Regions from separate parts of the Homo sapiens genome. Here region 2 is linked to region 1. The links come from fine-mapping of genetic effects on gene expression. A gene starts in region 1. The other region holds a variant in brackets. All regions are shown on one strand. Distances are from middle to middle. Region 1 holds the start of NUBP1 (NUBP iron-sulfur cluster assembly factor 1, cytosolic). Region 2 overlaps NUBP1 (NUBP iron-sulfur cluster assembly factor 1, cytosolic).

Region 1 (8,327 bases):
TGAGTCATCACGCCCAACCTTTTTTTTTTTTTTCTGAGACAGAGTCTCATTCTGTCACTCAGGCTGGAGTGCAGTGGCACAATCTTGGCTCACTGCAACCTCTGCCTCCCGGGTTCATGCAATTCTCCTGCCTCAGCCTCCTGAGTAGCTGGGATTATAGGCGCACACCACCACACCCAGCTAATTTTTTGTGTATTTTTAGTAGAGACAGGGTTTCGCTATGTTGGCCAGACTGGTCTTGAACACCTGACCTGGTGATCCACCCGCCTCGGCCTCCCAAAGTGCTGGGATTACAGGCGTGAGCCATCGCGCCTGGCCTTTTTTTTTTTTTTTTTTTTTTTTTTAGACAAGGTGTCACTCTGCTGCCCAGGCTGGAGGGCAGTACTGTGATAACAGCTCATTGCAGCCTCCAACTCCAGCAATCGTCCTGCCTCGGCCTCCCAAGTAGCTGGGACTACAGGCATGCACCACCTTGCCCAGTTAATTTTTAAATTTTTTGTAGAGACAGGGTCTCACTATGCTGTTCTCCAACTCCTGGCCTCAAGCAATCCTCCTGCCTTGGCCTCCTAAAATGCTGGGATTACAGGTGTGAGCCACTGCACCTGACGTGTGTGACTAATTGTAGCCAATGAAAAGTGGGCAGATAGGTGTCATTTCTAGTGGAAGCATTTCAGAATCAGGGTACAATTCCCCTGGCTTGTGTCCTCTGTGTTCAAAAGGGGCCACAGGAGACGGTGGAGCTTCAGTCTGTGTCCCTGAGGAACCACAGGGAGCAGGAACCTCTGTCCATGAAGTTACATATGGAGCAAATGCCAAAATAAACTTGATTGCCTTGAGCCACTTCAGTTTGGGGATGTCTGTTTTGGCAGCGCAGACTAGCCTATCCTGGCTGAAACAGACACTGTTGCAGGACCAGGAGGAGGAGGGGGCCTGAGCTGAGGCAGGAGGGATGCTGGAAGGCATGGAGTGTCAGTTGTCTATAGCTACCCCAAACTCAACAGTGTCAAACCACCAGCATTTAGCTAGTTCACCAGCCTGTGCATTGGCCAGGTGGTTCTTCAGGACTCACGCATCTATGGCCAGTTGTGGGTCTGGATGGGTGGATCTGTGGGTCTGGATGTGTGGATCGGTGGGTCTGGATGGGTGGATCTGTGTGTCTGGATGTGTGGATCGGTGGGTCTGGATGGGTGGATCTGTGGGTCTGGATGGGTGGATCAGTGGGTCTGGATGGGTGGATCTGTGGGTCTGGGTGGGTGGATCTGTGGGTCTGGATGGGTGGATCTGTGGGTCTGGGTGGGTGGATCTGCAGCTCTTGGCTGGACTCTTCTCATGTGTCTTGGGCCGCTGGTTTAGGAGGCCTTCACTGAGAGCACAGGGGTGGCTCAGCTCAGTTCCAGGTGTTTCACCTCCCATGGGCGAGCCCAGACCTTCTCCTAGCCTGTGTACCTTTAAGTGGCAGGGGAGCTGGAGAGGGATTAAAACAGGCAAAAGCCCCATTACAAGCTTTTTCTTGAATCACATTTGCTAAAGTAAGTCACATGCCTGAGCACAGAGTCAAGGGGTAGGATGGAACCCCCTCCCCGCACGTGGGAGGGCACTGCAAAGTTCAGCAGCCAAGGGCACAGATCCAGACAGGGAGAGAAGTGGGGTCATGTGTGCTACCAGCCTACCACCTAGGGGTGCAGCTGCTGACCTGATGTCTGATTGGATGCAGGGGGTGCTGTGGGCGTCTCTATGGACAACACTGACCCCCATCCCTGTATAGGTACGCCACCCCACTAATCAACAAGAGGAGTCTGTGTCTGTGACACTTTGACCGAGAGAACATGGTGAAAGTGACTGCCACTTCCCAGCTTTGTCATTCCCAGCTGCCATTTAAAGGGACACAGGCTAGACCACTGAAAAATGAGAGAGGGAGGCCACGAGGGGGGAATCAAGGCCAGTGTGAGAGTGAAGCCATTTGAGACCTTCCAGCCAACTCCCAGCTGAATGAAGCCACATTAAGGGAGCCCAGGTGAAACCAGAAGAGTCACAGGAAGCAATAAACCATGGTGGGTTTAAACCACTACATATTGGGGTGACTTGTCACACAGCACTTGATCACTGATGGAGATGGAGAAAACTAAACAAGGCTGATACTCAGATTTACGGCTTGAGTTCTTAGCCCAGGGGTCATGCCCTGTCCAGGTATAACAAATCCAGAGGCAGGAACCGCCTTGAGAAGAAGTTGTAGACGTTTATTTGTTACGCTTGTGGGATGTCCATGCAATAAAATCCAATAGGCACAAGGTAGGATCCACAGATCCGAACTCACGGAGCAAGAGGTGTGGGAGCTGGAGACAGAAGATGGATAGCATCAGGGCTGTCAGTTGCTTGCCCAGGAGGAAGTGGGAAGTGGGACTGGAAGTGGCCCAAGAACAGAGTCTTGGGGAGCACTCACCTTAAGAAGCGGCCCTGGCCAGGCGCGGTGGCTCACACCTGTAATCCTAGCACTTTGGTAGGCTGAGGCGGGTGGATCACCTGAGGTCAGGAGTTCGAGACCAGCCAGGCCTACATGGTAAAACCCCGTCTCTACCAAAAATACAAAAAATTAGCCAGGCGTGGTGGTGGGCACCTGTAGTCCCAGCTACTCAGGAGGCTGACACAGGAGAATTGCTTGAACCCGGGAGGTGGAGGTTGCAGTAAGCCAAGATCACACCACTGCACTCCAGCATGAGCAACAGAGTGAGATTCCATCCCACAAAAATAAAAATAAAAAGGAGAATAACTTGCATCCTGCCCTCTAATATACAGTATAGTGATTAATAGCAAAGGCCCTGTATCAGACTTGGTTAAAAACCCAGTTCTGCTCTTTCTGCCTCTCAGACTGTGGACAAGTAAATCTTTGCAGCCATCTTATCACCTGTAAAACGGAAATGACAACAGTCCCTACCTGATAGGTGACTTCCTCTCTGCTCTCCAGGCCTTTGCTGATGCCCCATCACTCTGGTCCTCTTCTCCCGACCAGACTGTGCTCCAGATGGCAGGGTCCAGGTTAGTCTGGAATCATTGGCATCTAGCCCAGTGCTGGCTGGGACCATGTGTTACTAAGTGCAGGCTCTGCAGCCAGACAGACCAAGTTTATCACCCTGGTTCCCCTGCTACCAGTCATGCGACCTCGGGAAAGTAGTTTACTTTAAGCCTCAGTTTCCTTATCCAAAAATGGAGACAGTAGGACTATGAAAGGACATAAATTAGGTAATTCACATGAAAGCACAAAGATGACAGCTGCCAAACGGTAAGTATTCTACAAAATGCTGGCTATAATTAGTGGTAGTGACAGGCAGCTGATACACTGCTGTTTAATAAATGTTTCCGAGGCCGGGTGCGGTGGCTCATGCCTGTAATCCCAACACTTTGGGAGGCCAAGGCGGGCAGATCACGAGGTCAGGAGATCGAGACCATTCTGGCTAACATGGTGAAACCCTGTCTCTACTAAAAATACAAAAAATTAGCCGGGCGTGGTGGCCTGTAGTCTCAGCTACTCGGGTGGCTGAGGCAGGAGAATGACGTGAACCCAGAAGGCGGAGCTTGCAGTGAGCCGAGATCCCACCACTGCACTCCAGCCTGGGTGACAGAGCGAGAATCCGCCTCAAAAATAAATAAATAAATAAACGTTTCCATATTCTTAGTGTCTGGGGCTAGGTAAAGTTTGTTCACTCATTAATATTCCAGGTGCCAAACCTGTGAGCAATGACACTCCAGTAGCAATGAGCATTTGTGGCATCCACATCTTGGTTTCTGAACTGTTGTCTGCTAAAAAGTAACCAAGGCTCCCTGAAGAAATGACTGCAGCAGGGAGAAGGGATGACTGAAACATCTTGTATCAGAAAGCAAGAAAATGCTCAAAGAAGCTGGATTAGTGCCCAAAGAACATAAGAACTGTCTTGAAGGGGCTTCACTGGCCACATCTGGGGGAAAAAAAATCGACCAGAAAGAATAATAATTGATTATAAAAGACAATTTTAAAAAATCCAGGAATCCATAGTGAGTCTTCGAAAAAAAAGAAAAAAAGAGAGGGTATAAAACTGATATATATTTATCATATATATAATCTATAGTTTTATATATATATATATAAATGCTGCTAAAATCACTGAGTGAAAGGCTGATAGAGAAGAAGATGGTCCCAGAGAGTACCTGTTAATTACAAATGGAAGAAGGAAACATTAAATGGAGAAATGGGGCAGACACCACCTTTAGCAAGCGATCAAGCTTCACATTACCAAAAACGGGACAAACTGACATTATCCAAGTGTGTTCTGCAGGAAAAAAGAAAAATTAACCTTTATCTAATTACAAGGCAAGAGGGAGGGGAGGATTAGACAAATCAAGAATATGGGATATTCTATTACACAACTGGTCTGGACCCGTCAAAATTATCAAGGTGATGAGACCCCCCCTAAAAAAAGAAGGACTGATCTGAATTAAAGGAGACCGAAGAGAAATAACTCCAGGCAGTGAGTGAATCCAGCAGGGGAGGGGGTCTAACAACTGAAATTGAAATATAAACTGTCTATTGGCTAATACTGCATTGGCTAGTACTGCATCGATATTAAATCTCTTGGGTATGAAAATGGCACTGATGTCATGAAGAATGGCTTTGTTCTTAGGAGATGCACTGCAGAAGTATTTATGATAGGAAATCTCTGAAAAGGAACAGACGTTGAGTCCCAGTCTTTCGGCCCAAGGTTCGCGCGTGCGCACAGCCCCCTTTCCGAGACTTATTTCGCGCGGTCGGAGAATCAGATTGTGCCCACAAGGCGGAAATGTACGACAGCGGGTTCCGGTGACCACGAAGGCGGCAAAGGCGACGGAATGGAGGAGGTGCCTCACGGTAAGCTCGCGGAGGGGGCGTGGGTCGCGGGGCGAAAGTGTCGGGAGCTGCTCTAACTGTGGTCTTGTCTCTGCGCAGACTGTCCAGGGGCCGACAGCGCCCAGGCGGGCAGAGGGGCTTCATGTCAGGGATGCCCCAACCAGCGGCTGTGCGCTTCTGGAGCGGGGGCCACTCCGGACACGGGTGAGAAAAGGGCAAGGCCTCAACAGGAACTTAGAGGCGCAGGCCCGGAAAAGGCGGGGCGTGGGAGGGAGGGGGCGGGATCTGCAGAATGACTGACAGCGGCAGGCTAGAAGGTATTGTATTCGGAGAGGGGTGGGGCCCAGAAGGGGCGGGGCGTGGAAAGTGGGCAGGGTGAGGGCGGAGCTTGGAATGACTGACAGGAACGAGGCCTTTAGAAGGCGAGCGCGAAGGACCTGGCGCGGATGGAGGGTGGAGACTGACCGGCGCGGAGTCGAAAGGGACATTAATTAAGAGGGTCGGGGCCAGAGGTTTGAGTGACAATAACAGACCGCAGAGAAAAACGGGATAAGCTTCGAAGTCGGGGAGTCTTCGGACTTACATCCTGGCTCTGCCAGCTACTTTCTTGACACAATTTTCTTCCTTTTGAGGAGTGATTCTCCCACTCATTCAGCAGAAATGTGTTGATCGCCTCGTAGGTTTGGTGCTGTCCTGGGGACACAGCTGGGGATCAGGCGTGGTCACTGCTCTAGTGGAGTTTAGCTTTACTGGGGAAACAAACACGTGAGCTAGCAACTAAACCACCGCAGCTTTAAGTGCTGTGAAGCACAGATTCCAGGATGAGAGGACCCAGGGAGCCTGCTCAGAAGGACCTTAAAAAGCAGGAGGCAGGAGGACAATATTTTTTTTTCTTTTTTTTCCCCCTTTTTTTTTAGACAGAGTCTTGCTGTGTAGCCCAGACCAGAGTGCAGTGGTGTGATCTCGGCTCACTGCAACTTTCACCTCTCAGGTTCAAGCGATTCTCGTGCCTCAGTCTCCCGAGTACCTGGGACTACAGGCGCCTGCCACCACGGCTGGCTAATTTTTATATTTTTAGTAGAACCAGAGTTTCACCATGTTGACCAGGTTGGTCTCGAACTCCTGACCTCAAGTGATGCATCTGCCTGGGCCTCCCAAAGTGCTGGGATTACAGGCATGAGCCACTGCACCTGGCCAAGGGGGAGAATCTTGAAGGAGTTCAGAGAGAGACTTGGATTTGATTCTTGGATCCATGCGGTGTGACCTTCAGCAATAGTCCTAACCTCTCTGAGCTTCTGGTTCCTCATCAAAAATGGAGACAGGCCGGGTGCAGTGGCTCACGCCTGTAATCCCAGCACTTTGGGAGGCCGAGGCGGGTGGATGGATCACTTGAGGTCAGGAGTTCGAGACCAGCCTGGCCAACATGGTGAAACCTGTCTCTACTAAAAATACAAAAATTAGCCAGCATGGTGGTGCATGCCCGCCCTCGAGGCTGAGGTGGGAGGATCACTTGAACCCGGGAGGTGGAGGTTGCAGTGAGCTGAGATCGTGCCACTGCACTCCAGCCTGGGTGACAGAGTGAGACCCTGTCTCAAAGAAAAAAAAAAATGAAGAGAAAAATAGTTATCTCTGTCAATGCAATGGAGAGACTGAACTGAGCCTCAGTGGAGGTTTATTGGGCCAGAGCTTGAGGGCGTGCCCTGGAAAATACAAGTGACAGAAACATCTGTGGCCTGTGCTCGATGGAGTGGTTCCAGAAGGCTGGTGTTTATATATTTCATTAAAAGGGGAAAAAGCATGCAGGAAAAAGTGCAGTAGGCCTCGTGGCAGGTAGTTACATTCTTGTGAGGTTTTAATTCGTGCCCAGTATATCTACACTATTCAGAAAATAAAGTAAACATTCAAAAGAGGGAATAAAGGAAGAATTAATTAGGCAGACGTCTCAGGGTAGGAGAGGAAGGACTATCTCATCCCATCTTTGTTTGGCATGTGGGAGGATAAGCTTGTAATGGACATGGTCAGTGTGGCGTTTAACAGACATCAGTAATAGGGAAGGAGTTAGACTGAGGTTACAGTCCTAAAGTTACAGTTGGCATGTCCTTGTTTATGGGAGGATACTCATCTTCAAAGATTTAGGGGCCAGCAAAGGAGTTCCTTAGGAGCAACTTGTGAGGGCAGTCATCCCACAATGGATTGCATGGGGCCTTTGGCCTTTTGCAGGTGTCTGGTTAATGTAGAATGCTTTGACACAAGGTTGGGAAGTAACAGCTGTCTGTTGATGGGGAGGAGGACAGCAGTGTTGGGAGGTTTCCAGGCTTAACTTTCACTTGAGTTTGGCCAGTCATGAGACTTTTTAATTTCCTTTATACCTCGTGTATTGTTTTAAGGATTTGAAATAAGATAGTTTCATTGGCAGATACTTAGTATGTGCCTGCTGTCTATCAGAGTTTCTCAACCTCAGCACTGCTGACATTTGGGGCAGGATCACTCTTTGTTGTGGGGGGCTGTCCTGTGCATTGTAGGACATTTAGCACAATCTGGGCTGTACCCATTAAATGCCAGCAGTACCTCTCCTGTGACAATGAAAAGTGTCTCCAGGCTGAGCATGGTGGCTCACACCTGTAATTCCAACACTTTGGGAGGCCAAGGTGGGTGGATCACTTGAGGTTGGAAGTTCGAGACTAGCCTGGCCAACATAGAGAAACACCGTCTCTATTAAAAATACAAAAATTAGCCAGGCATGGTGGCAGGCACCTGTAATCCCAGCTACTTGGGAGGCTAAGGCAGGAGAATCGCTTGAACCCAGGAGGCAGTGTTGCAGTGAGCCGAGATCACGCCACTGCACTCCATCCTGGGCGACAGAGCAACACTCTGTCTCAAAAAAAAAAGAAAGAAAGAACAGTGTCTCCAGACATTACCAAATGTCTCTGGGGGATTTTGTCCCCAAGTTGGTGACCATTGCTGTTTGCAAAGTTCTCTTCTGGAGCTGGGAATACAGCACTGAAAGCTTCAGACAGTTCCTACCTTTGTGGAGACTATGTTCTAGTTGGGGGAGACAAACGTGTAAACCAATAAATGAGACCCCTTCAAGTGTGATAATAGCCTTATTTTCTTCCTAGCACTTATTTCTACCATTGTCTGAGAGGTATTTCAGAGGATCGTTTTAAACAGCCCCAGGACTAGTACTAGGACTAGGACTTAGCTCTTTCTAGTTGACTGGAAGCGTGACATTCGAGGTTTGGTGTGGGACCTCATCCCCTGAACTTTGGTTTTCTTTGCAGCTATAGAGGAAATCAAAGAGAAAATGAAGACTGTAAAACACAAAATCTTGGTATTGTCTGGGAAAGGCGGTGTTGGGAAAAGCACATTCAGCGCCCACCTTGCCCATGGCCTAGCAGAGGATGAAAACACACAGGTGAGACCTCAGGAACCACTGGGAGATGCTCATTTTGTCTGAGGGTCGTGATGGCTA
Region 2 (8,327 bases), 25 kb after region 1:
AGCCCACTGGAGCATCTCAGCCCATGGGAGCATCTTAGCCTGCTGGAGCACCTCAGTGTACTTTGCTTTTTGGCATCTCAGTCTGCTGGAGTATTTGTCTATTGGAGCATCTCAGTCTGCTGGAGTGTGGCAGTCTATTGGAGCATCTCAGTCTGCTGGAGTATGCCAGTCTGTTGGAGCATCTCAGTCTGCTGGAGTATTTGTCTATTGGAGAATCTCAGTCTGCTGGAGTATGCCAGTGTGTTGGAGCATCTCAGTCTGCTGGAGTATGTCAGTCTATTGGAGCATCTCAGTCTGCTGGAGTATTTGTCTATTGGAGCATCTCATTCTGCTGGAGTATTTGTCTATTGGAGCATCTCAGTCTGCTGGAGTATGTCAGTCTATTGGAGCATCTCAGTCTGCTGGAGTATGTCAGTCTATTGGAGCATCTCAGTCTGCTGGAGTATGTCAGTCTATTGGAGCATCTCAGTCTGCTGGAGTAGGTCTATTGGAGCATCTCAGTCTGCTGGAGTATGTCAGTCTGTTGGAGCATCTCAGTCTGCTGGAGTATGTCAGTCTGTTGGAGCATCTCAGTCTGCTGGAGTATGTCAGTCTGTTGGAGCATCTCAGTCTGCTGGAGTATGTCAGTCTGTTGGAGCATCTGTCTGCTGGAGTATGTCAGTCTGTTGGAGCATCTCAGTCTGCTGGAGTATGTCAGTCTGTTGGAGCATCTGTCTGCTGGAGTGTCTTGGCTGCTGTCGAGGAAAGCTGGGCACAGCCACCAGGGCATTCCTGAGCCCACTTACCCATCAGAGGGGCTGCATCTCCCAGAAGCGTGCCTGCCCGAGTGCCATGCTCGTCTCAGTCACTAGCTAGGAGCAGCCTGGGAGTGGCATTGCCTCAACACAAACGTGGTGGTGGATTTTGGAGCATGGCAGCTGCTGCCAGAGATCCAAGAGGTGTGTCCTTATGGCCATCACAATTGCCACATTTTCCAAGGTTTAATGAAGAGCTAGAAATCTATATCCTTACCCAAAGTCTCCTGATACTAAATGATAGCAACTAACTCCATTAAATACACACACACACACACACACAACCATGCTCTAGCCTGGGTAACACAGGAAGATACCTCATCTCTTAAAAAAAAAAAAAAAAAAAAAAGGAAAAAATTCACCCAGTGTGGTGGCATGTGCCTGTGGTCCCAGCTACTCAGGAGGCTGAGTTAGCAGGATCACTTGAGCCCAGGGAGGTTGAGGTTGCAGTGAGCCATGATCACACCACTGCACTCCAGCCTGGGCGACAGAGCAAGAACCTGTCTCAAAAAAAAATTTAAAAATGGCATGCTTGCTGACCCACCCAAATATGTCCACGGGCCCAGCCACAGGCCTGCCCTTGCCATTGTCTGACAGATCAGGAAGTGACCTTGGGGCTATTAGATCCTGATACGGCTTTTCTTCCAAAGAGCCAGCAACCTCCATCTTCCCACCTCCCTCACACCAAGCCCTGGCATTGGCCCTGGTCTTTCCTTTCAGGGCCACTTTTCACAAAGAAACAAAGTTCCAGGTGGTTCACAAGAGCTAATTTCAAAGCAGAGGAGCCACCAGTGACAGCTGCGAGGCTCATTCTGAGCTGAGAACATTAAGTGCCTTCTAGTGGGCATGGTCCTGTGTGTCAAATGGCACATTGCAGAAGCTCACCTTGAGGGGAAGCCACAGATAGCAAGGCCAGGGAGTGCCAGAAAGGAAGGGGTGGTTAACACTGTCACCCACCCAAGAGGGTGGAGCATGAGGGCCAAGTGACAGACACGCATCTGGCAAGGTCACTGGGGACAGAGTGGGGGAAAACCCACCTTCCTAGGAACAGACAGGAAGGCATGAGGACAGCACTTCAGTCTCCTCTGGGGACATGGTGGCAAAGAGTTACAGATGCCAGCGCTCTGGTGCTATGGGTCCTGGTCCCGGTGTGCTGAGGATCACAGGAAGGGCTGGCCTCAGAGCCCTGCTCCGCCACCACTAGCTGTGGGACTTGGGCTAGTCATTTCCGCTCTCAGCCTCGATGGCCCCGTGTGTAAAATGCAGGTGACAGTGGTGCCTAGTGAGAGGGATCTGCCAGGGTGGGGTGAGAGGATGCCTGGGATCTCTTGGAACAGGGCTGTGCTCACACCAGCTGTTCTGATAATGCTGCCCGTTCTTGGAGAGGTGGGAGCCCAGGGGGAAATGCAGTTAGGAAGGGAAAACACTAGAGCATATATGTGTGTTGGGGGCTGGGGAGCCCTCTGGGGAAGGGAGACCTGGGTGAAAGTCAGGGACAGAAAGTAGCCCCAGCATGACTATTCTGGGATCCCCAACCTCCCAGGTCTGGCCCAGCGAACGTGCACTCAGGGGCCTCCCTAGCGAGTTCCACATGGTCTCATGGGCCCAGCGTTAACGGCGGAGGATGTCCAGGTTCTTGGTGTCTGGAACAAAAAATTGGACAAAACGCACAAAGAAAGGAAGGAAGGAAGGGATTTATTGAAAATGAAAGTCAACTCCACGGTGTGGGAGGAGAACGGGCCTGAGAATAGGGGCTCAAAGGCCCCATTACAGAGTTTTTGTGTTTAAATACCCTCTACTTGAGGTACGCCCTATATAAACGAAAAGGATGAAGTAAAGTTACAAAGTCATTTACGGCATACGTCCTATGGAGAGGACATTTCCTGTTATGGCTCAAGTGCGAATTGGCCTTATGTTCCCTGCCTCTGGACCCTATTTTCCTGACTCACTGGGCCATATGGGCTCCCCATCTCCCACCAACCCCTCCCCACAGGCTTCTTCCCCGACTTGGACTTCCCTGTCCCACAGGGCGACACAGTAGTGAAGTTGAGGAAATGATGAGTGCTAGGTAGGAACCCCTCCTGGGGTTCACCTGAGGCTGGTGACCGGCCATGGGCAGTGCAGTCACTTGCCTGTTTCGCCAGCAGCTCAGGCCTGGGGAGTGGGCAGAGCAAGCTGATGGCAGGTCCACCCACGACTGGGGGCTGGCAGGGCAGACTGGAGGCGAGAACACCCCCATTGACCCCTAGCCCCTTGTGTCCTGTCCACCTGGCTCTGGGATAACATGGTCCTAGAGAAACCTGGGTGTGCATAGGAGGGGACTGGAACAATGGCCACATGGCGGGGAAAGACTAGCAGACTGATAGACACCAGCACAGATGACCTGGAAGATAAAATTATACACAGACAAAGCAGCAGGCAGAATGTGTGTGTCATGTGCTCCCATTCGTATTTTAGGTATATGAGAGTGTGTGTATGTGTGTGCGCACACATGCAAGTGTGCACATTTATATGCGCATAATCTTTCTGGAAAGACACCTAGAACACTAGTAGCCCTTTTCGGACTTGGCCTTTTATGCCATATCCTTTTGCATTCTGTACTTTTTTTAACCATGTGCATTCATGATCCTTTCACTCAAAAGCTAATCTCTTAAAATGCAGACTCCTGGGCCCATGTGGAAGCTGCTGAATCAGTTCTCTGTAGGGCCCTGGAACCTGCATTTTCTGTACACCACCTGATTATTTAGCCACGCTGAAATGCTGGCTGGGGACCCTGCTGGAAGGAAGGTCCCTGAGACCCCACTGGTCTTTTCTACTTTGTTCTTCATTACGAGTGAAGCGGGCTCAAGATCTTCCCATTGTCACCAGCACGGAAAGAGCCCCAAGATCTTGTGGCCATTCTGTTTTCCTCTTGGACTGAATTGTCTTCCGTTTGTTTCTTTTTTAAGGTAAGAATTGTGACAAAGGCCAGTCTTTTTTCATTGACGCCCCAGATTCCCCAGCCACGTTAGCCTACAGAAGTATAATTCAGAGTAAGTATTTCCATGAGTACTAAATGCAGATGCCTGTGGGGCAGGAAGCAACATAAAGGAGCCAGGGGTGTGGAAGGACAGGTGGGTGGTGGGGTCTGTGATGACCACAGAGTGGCCCCCATAGCCGAGGAAGCCAGGAGTCCATGAGAAATCTCTCAATGTGTGAGTATTGTGAATTAATTCATAGTTTAAAAAACATGGTGAGGGTGAAATTTATGGCTTAGGAAATACATCCCAATAAAGGGATAAAGTAATTCATTTTTAAAAGTAACTGATAAAAAAAAAAAAGGCCAGGTGCAGTGGCTCACACCTGGAATCCCAGCACTTTGGGTGAAGGAGGCAGGCAGATCACTTGAGGCTGGTCAGGAGTTCAAGACCAGCCTGGCTAACATGGAGAAACACTGTCTCTACTAAAAATATGAAAATTAGCCGGGTGTGGTGGCGCATGCCTGTAGTCCCAGCTACTCAGGAGGCTGAGGCAGGAGAATCGCTTGAACCTGGGAGGCGGAGGCTGCAGTAAGGCGAGATCGCGCCACTGCACTCCAGCCTGGGCAACAGCGTGAGACCGTGTCTCAAAAAAATAAAAAATAAAAATAAAAACTTTGTTGAGCCAGACCAAACCCACGTGCAGGCCACATTCAGCCAGTGGCAGCCATCAGAGGCCCCAGAGTTAGGGCAGAGGTGTCAGTGTTTGTTAAAGCTGTGGTCTCTGAGTTTGTGGCTGGGTTTTACTTGCCTAGAAGAATGATGTCAAGGGTAAGGAAACAGCATTCCCAGAATCCTCCATCTATAGATGGTCCGAGGAAGGCCGCAGCCACTGGTTATGAGCAAGATGGGTAGTGTGAGGTATTCCGGTCACTTTCAAAGACTCAGGGCATCACAGACACAGGTCTTTTTATGGAACTAGCCAGAGGATTCCACCCCTGTCAAAACACAGCCCTCCCCAGCACAGGACAGGGCTGTCAAGGGGTAGACAAGCCATTAGCACTCTATGCCTGTCGTCTTGTTTTCCAGGAATCCAAGAGTTTTGTAATCTCCATCAGTCAAAAGAAGAGAACCTCATCAGTTCCTGAA[A/G]CGAGAGAATGTTCAGGACCAAGCAGTTACCGAGCGAGGCACTCACTGGGCAGCACATCCAGCCAGACCCGACCAGCTCCGGGATGGGGTGGGTCACAGCAAAAGGACCAGATGCTGGTGTGGTCCGAAGCCACTTTCTCAGAGACACTTTAATCATTGAGTATTTGTACACTTTTCTTTAGAACATATATAAAGGGCATTCTCTACAAATGTGCCGTTTTAAGAATAAAACCCCCTCAAATCTCTCCCCCGAGGCCTGTTTCACGTAAAAAACAAATGGGTTGTGGGATCGTGGGATTCTGCTGTGTCGGAAGCTTAGTCGATTGTAGAAACTCCCGTTTAAGCCATTTCTGCCTGTGAAGATAAGAAAGCCTAGAAAAGAACCAAAGGGGTGAGTGTGCGGCTTCACTGCAGAACACACAGGCTTGTTTTCAAACACCACAGTCCAAACGCTTTTCTTCAGATTGAGGAAAAATCTAAAAGCAACAGAGCTCAGGCTGGGCTTCGTTCTAAAATCACTGCATATGACACAGCTGGGTCAAATCAAAAAGCCCTTGAAGAGTCCTTGAATCACCCAGTAAGACAGAATGTGGGGTCTGTGTAAATTCCCTGTGTAGTAATATGTGCACAGTATATCCAGTAATGTCCAGTGTCATGCAAACCAACTTTCAGGTTTTTTAATTATATAAAAAAGAGGGACAGATGTAAACTCTACGATCATCCTCTTTGCCATGAGGTGCTTGCTCTGTTTGAGACACACAGGATCTGAGACCACGTGGGAGAAGAGTAAATTCCTGTTTTCCCTCCACTCTGGGGCATAAAAGTGGGTGGGTGGGAAACAAGAACAAATCCCCTTGTTCTTTCCCTCCCTTGTCTCTTCCCTCCCCGCCCTTCCCTAGGACCATACATATGATCAGATTTGCACATGTTCAGTGTGAGGAAGGTGTGACCTCGCCCCCCGACCCCCAGCTCCTCACGCCAAGAGCAATGAGGCTGCAAAGCCCAGGGCAGGCCCATTGCCCAGTCTGCTTCCTGCCTGGTCACATGCCTGGCCACCCCAGGGAACAGGGGAAGCCCACCCAGACCCCGGGCCCCTGTGCCCCAAGAGCTGCATTTTTCAGAATTCCCCAGTTCCTCCACACGGGTGCCATGATCCATTTCTCACCTAATGCTGGTGAATCTCCAGCCCCTCGAGGCCAGGCTTCTGAAAGTCACCTGGGCAGGCCTGCAAGGGGAAAAGTCAACCATGGTTTTCTGTCCTTACACGCGAGTGGGGCGATCCTGCTGATGGAAGGCCAGAGAAAACCCACAAAGTACAGAAAACCTGCGGAATTGGTTGCTTGATGTCTTGGCATAAAGCAGTGCTGTTCAAATTTAGGACGGTTCTACCCATTTCAGGATGAACCTGGTCAAATTTCAAAGACTTCTGTCTCTCACTTTTAGAAATATCTATTAAGTTAAAAAAAAAAAACAAAACAAAAACAAGCTGGGCACGGTAGCTCCCGCCTGTAATCCTAGCACTTTGGGAGGCCAAGGCTGGTAGATCACTTGAGGCAAGGAGTTCGAGACCAGCCTGGTCAACATGGAGAGACCCCGTCTACTATAAATACAAAAATTAGCCAGGCATGGTGTTATGCACCTGTAATCCCAGCTACTTGGGAGGCTGAGGCAGGAGAATCACTTGAACCCGGAGCCGGAGGTTGCAGTGAGCCAACACATGCCATTGCACTCCAGCCTGGGAGCAGAGTGAGACTCCCATCTCAAAAAAAAAAAAAAAAAAAAAAAAAAAATTGAAAAACCGTTTGTGACTCTTTCCTTAATTCTATACTTTTAAAAATCACTGAAAACTAACAATGGCAGTCACAAAAGGACAAAAACTATAATTGCACTTATAGGAGGTCCCTAGGGCTGTCAAACCAATAGATACAGAAAGCAGAATGCTGGTTGCTAGGGCTAGGAGGCGAGGAGGAGGGGGAGTTAGTGTTTTGTGGGTACTGAGCTTAAGTTTTGCAAGATGAAAGCAGTTCTGGAGCTGGGTGGGGTGAAGGTTGCACAATAAAGTGGTTATACTTAATGCCACAGAACTATACATTTTAAAATGGTTACAATGGTACATTTTATGTAAATCTTACAATTAAAAAACAAAACTGCCAGGCACAGTGGCTCACTCATGGCTGTAATCCCAGCACTTTGGGAGGCCAAGGCAGGCGGGCTGCTTGAGCTCAGGAGTTCTAGAGCAGCCTGGGCAACATGGCAAAACTTCGTCTCTACAAAAAAAAAAGGCCAGGCATGGTGGTACACACCTGTAGTCCCAACTGTGCCAGAGGCTGAGGTGGGAGGATCGCTTGAGCCCAAGAGATGGAGGTTGCAATAGGCCGCGATCACACCATTGCACTCTAGCCTGGGTGACAGAGCGAGATCCTGTCTCCCAAAAAATATATAAACAATAAAACATTGGCAGCCTGGCGGATATGTTACATTACAAACCGCAGTTGCCAGCAGGCCACCTTGACTTTGACTACCTGGAGAGGAGTGGTCCAAGAGTCAGACCTCAGTTACTCACCGTCTGGAACACTGTCTGGGACAGGAAACTGGCTGTGACCTTGCCAATGTCACTGTTGCCTCCCATCTTACAAAGGATGTAGCCATACAGGTTTGCAGCTTGGAGAGAGATCCCAGCAACCACCAGAGCCTGCACTCAGACAAAGAAAGCAAAGGTCACTTTTTTTTGAGACAGAGTTTCGCTCTGTCGCCCAGGCTGGGGTGCAGAGGCACGATCTCAGCTCACTGCAAGTTCCGCCTCCCGGGTTCACACCATTCTCCTGCCTCAGCCTCCCGAGTAGCTGGGACTACAGGCGTCCGCCACCAGGCCTGGCTAATTTTTTTGTATTTTTAGTAGAGACACTGTTTCACCATGTTAGCCAGGATGGTCTCCATCTGACGCAAAGGTCACTTTCTAAGAGCATTTACAGAAATGCACCTCTCAAGCCACGTAGAAATGCTCTAGCCTGCACCTAAGAATAGTAACAGCCAACATTTACTGAGCATTTGCAAATACCCACGGACACCTCAGAATCATTACAACTGGAGAGGTTGCCACCATCATCATCCCATTTTACAAAGAGGAAACTGAGGCTCAGGAAGACGAAAGCTGCCCAAGGTCACAGAGCTGGAGCGTGGTCGAGCCGGGATCCAAATTCCAGGGCCCGCACTTTCATTAAATGACACTGTTGTTTTACTATCTACAAATATTTTGTTTTCTCTATTTATTGATTTTTTTTAAGACGGAGCCTCACTCTGTCACCCAGGCTGAAGTGCTGTGGCACGATCTTGGCTCACTGCAACCTCCGCCTCCTGGGTTCAAGCGATTCTCCTGCCTCAGCCTCCCAAGTAGCTGAGATTACAGGCGTGTGCCACTACGCCCAGC

The links. PIP is the estimated chance that this variant, and not a neighbour inherited with it, causes the effect.
Region 2: its variant is fine-mapped to the expression of NUBP1 in whole blood (TOPMed, PIP 0.97).

What each region holds. Positions count from the first base shown.
Region 1 is chr16:10,739,007-10,747,333 of GRCh38, forward strand. NUBP1 (NUBP iron-sulfur cluster assembly factor 1, cytosolic) reads left to right here and starts at 4,836. Exons shown (of 11, transcript NM_002484.4): 1 at 4,836-4,876; 2 at 4,955-5,059; 3 at 8,137-8,270. The coding sequence starts at 4,858. RefSeq lists an enhancer at 4,645-4,694.
Region 2 is chr16:10,764,207-10,772,533 of GRCh38, forward strand. It overlaps NUBP1 (NUBP iron-sulfur cluster assembly factor 1, cytosolic), which reads left to right. Exons shown (of 11, transcript NM_002484.4): 10 at 3,743-3,826; 11 at 4,841-5,145. The coding sequence ends at 4,899. It overlaps TVP23A (trans-golgi network vesicle protein 23 homolog A), which reads right to left. Exons shown (of 8, transcript NM_001079512.4): 6 at 7,464-7,592; 7 at 6,066-6,125; 8 at 2,469-4,895. The coding sequence ends at 6,066. Among named protein-coding and RNA genes, the nearest start is that of NUBP1, 25 kb to the left of the region's middle. The variant A/G (reference allele first, on the strand shown) is at 4,901.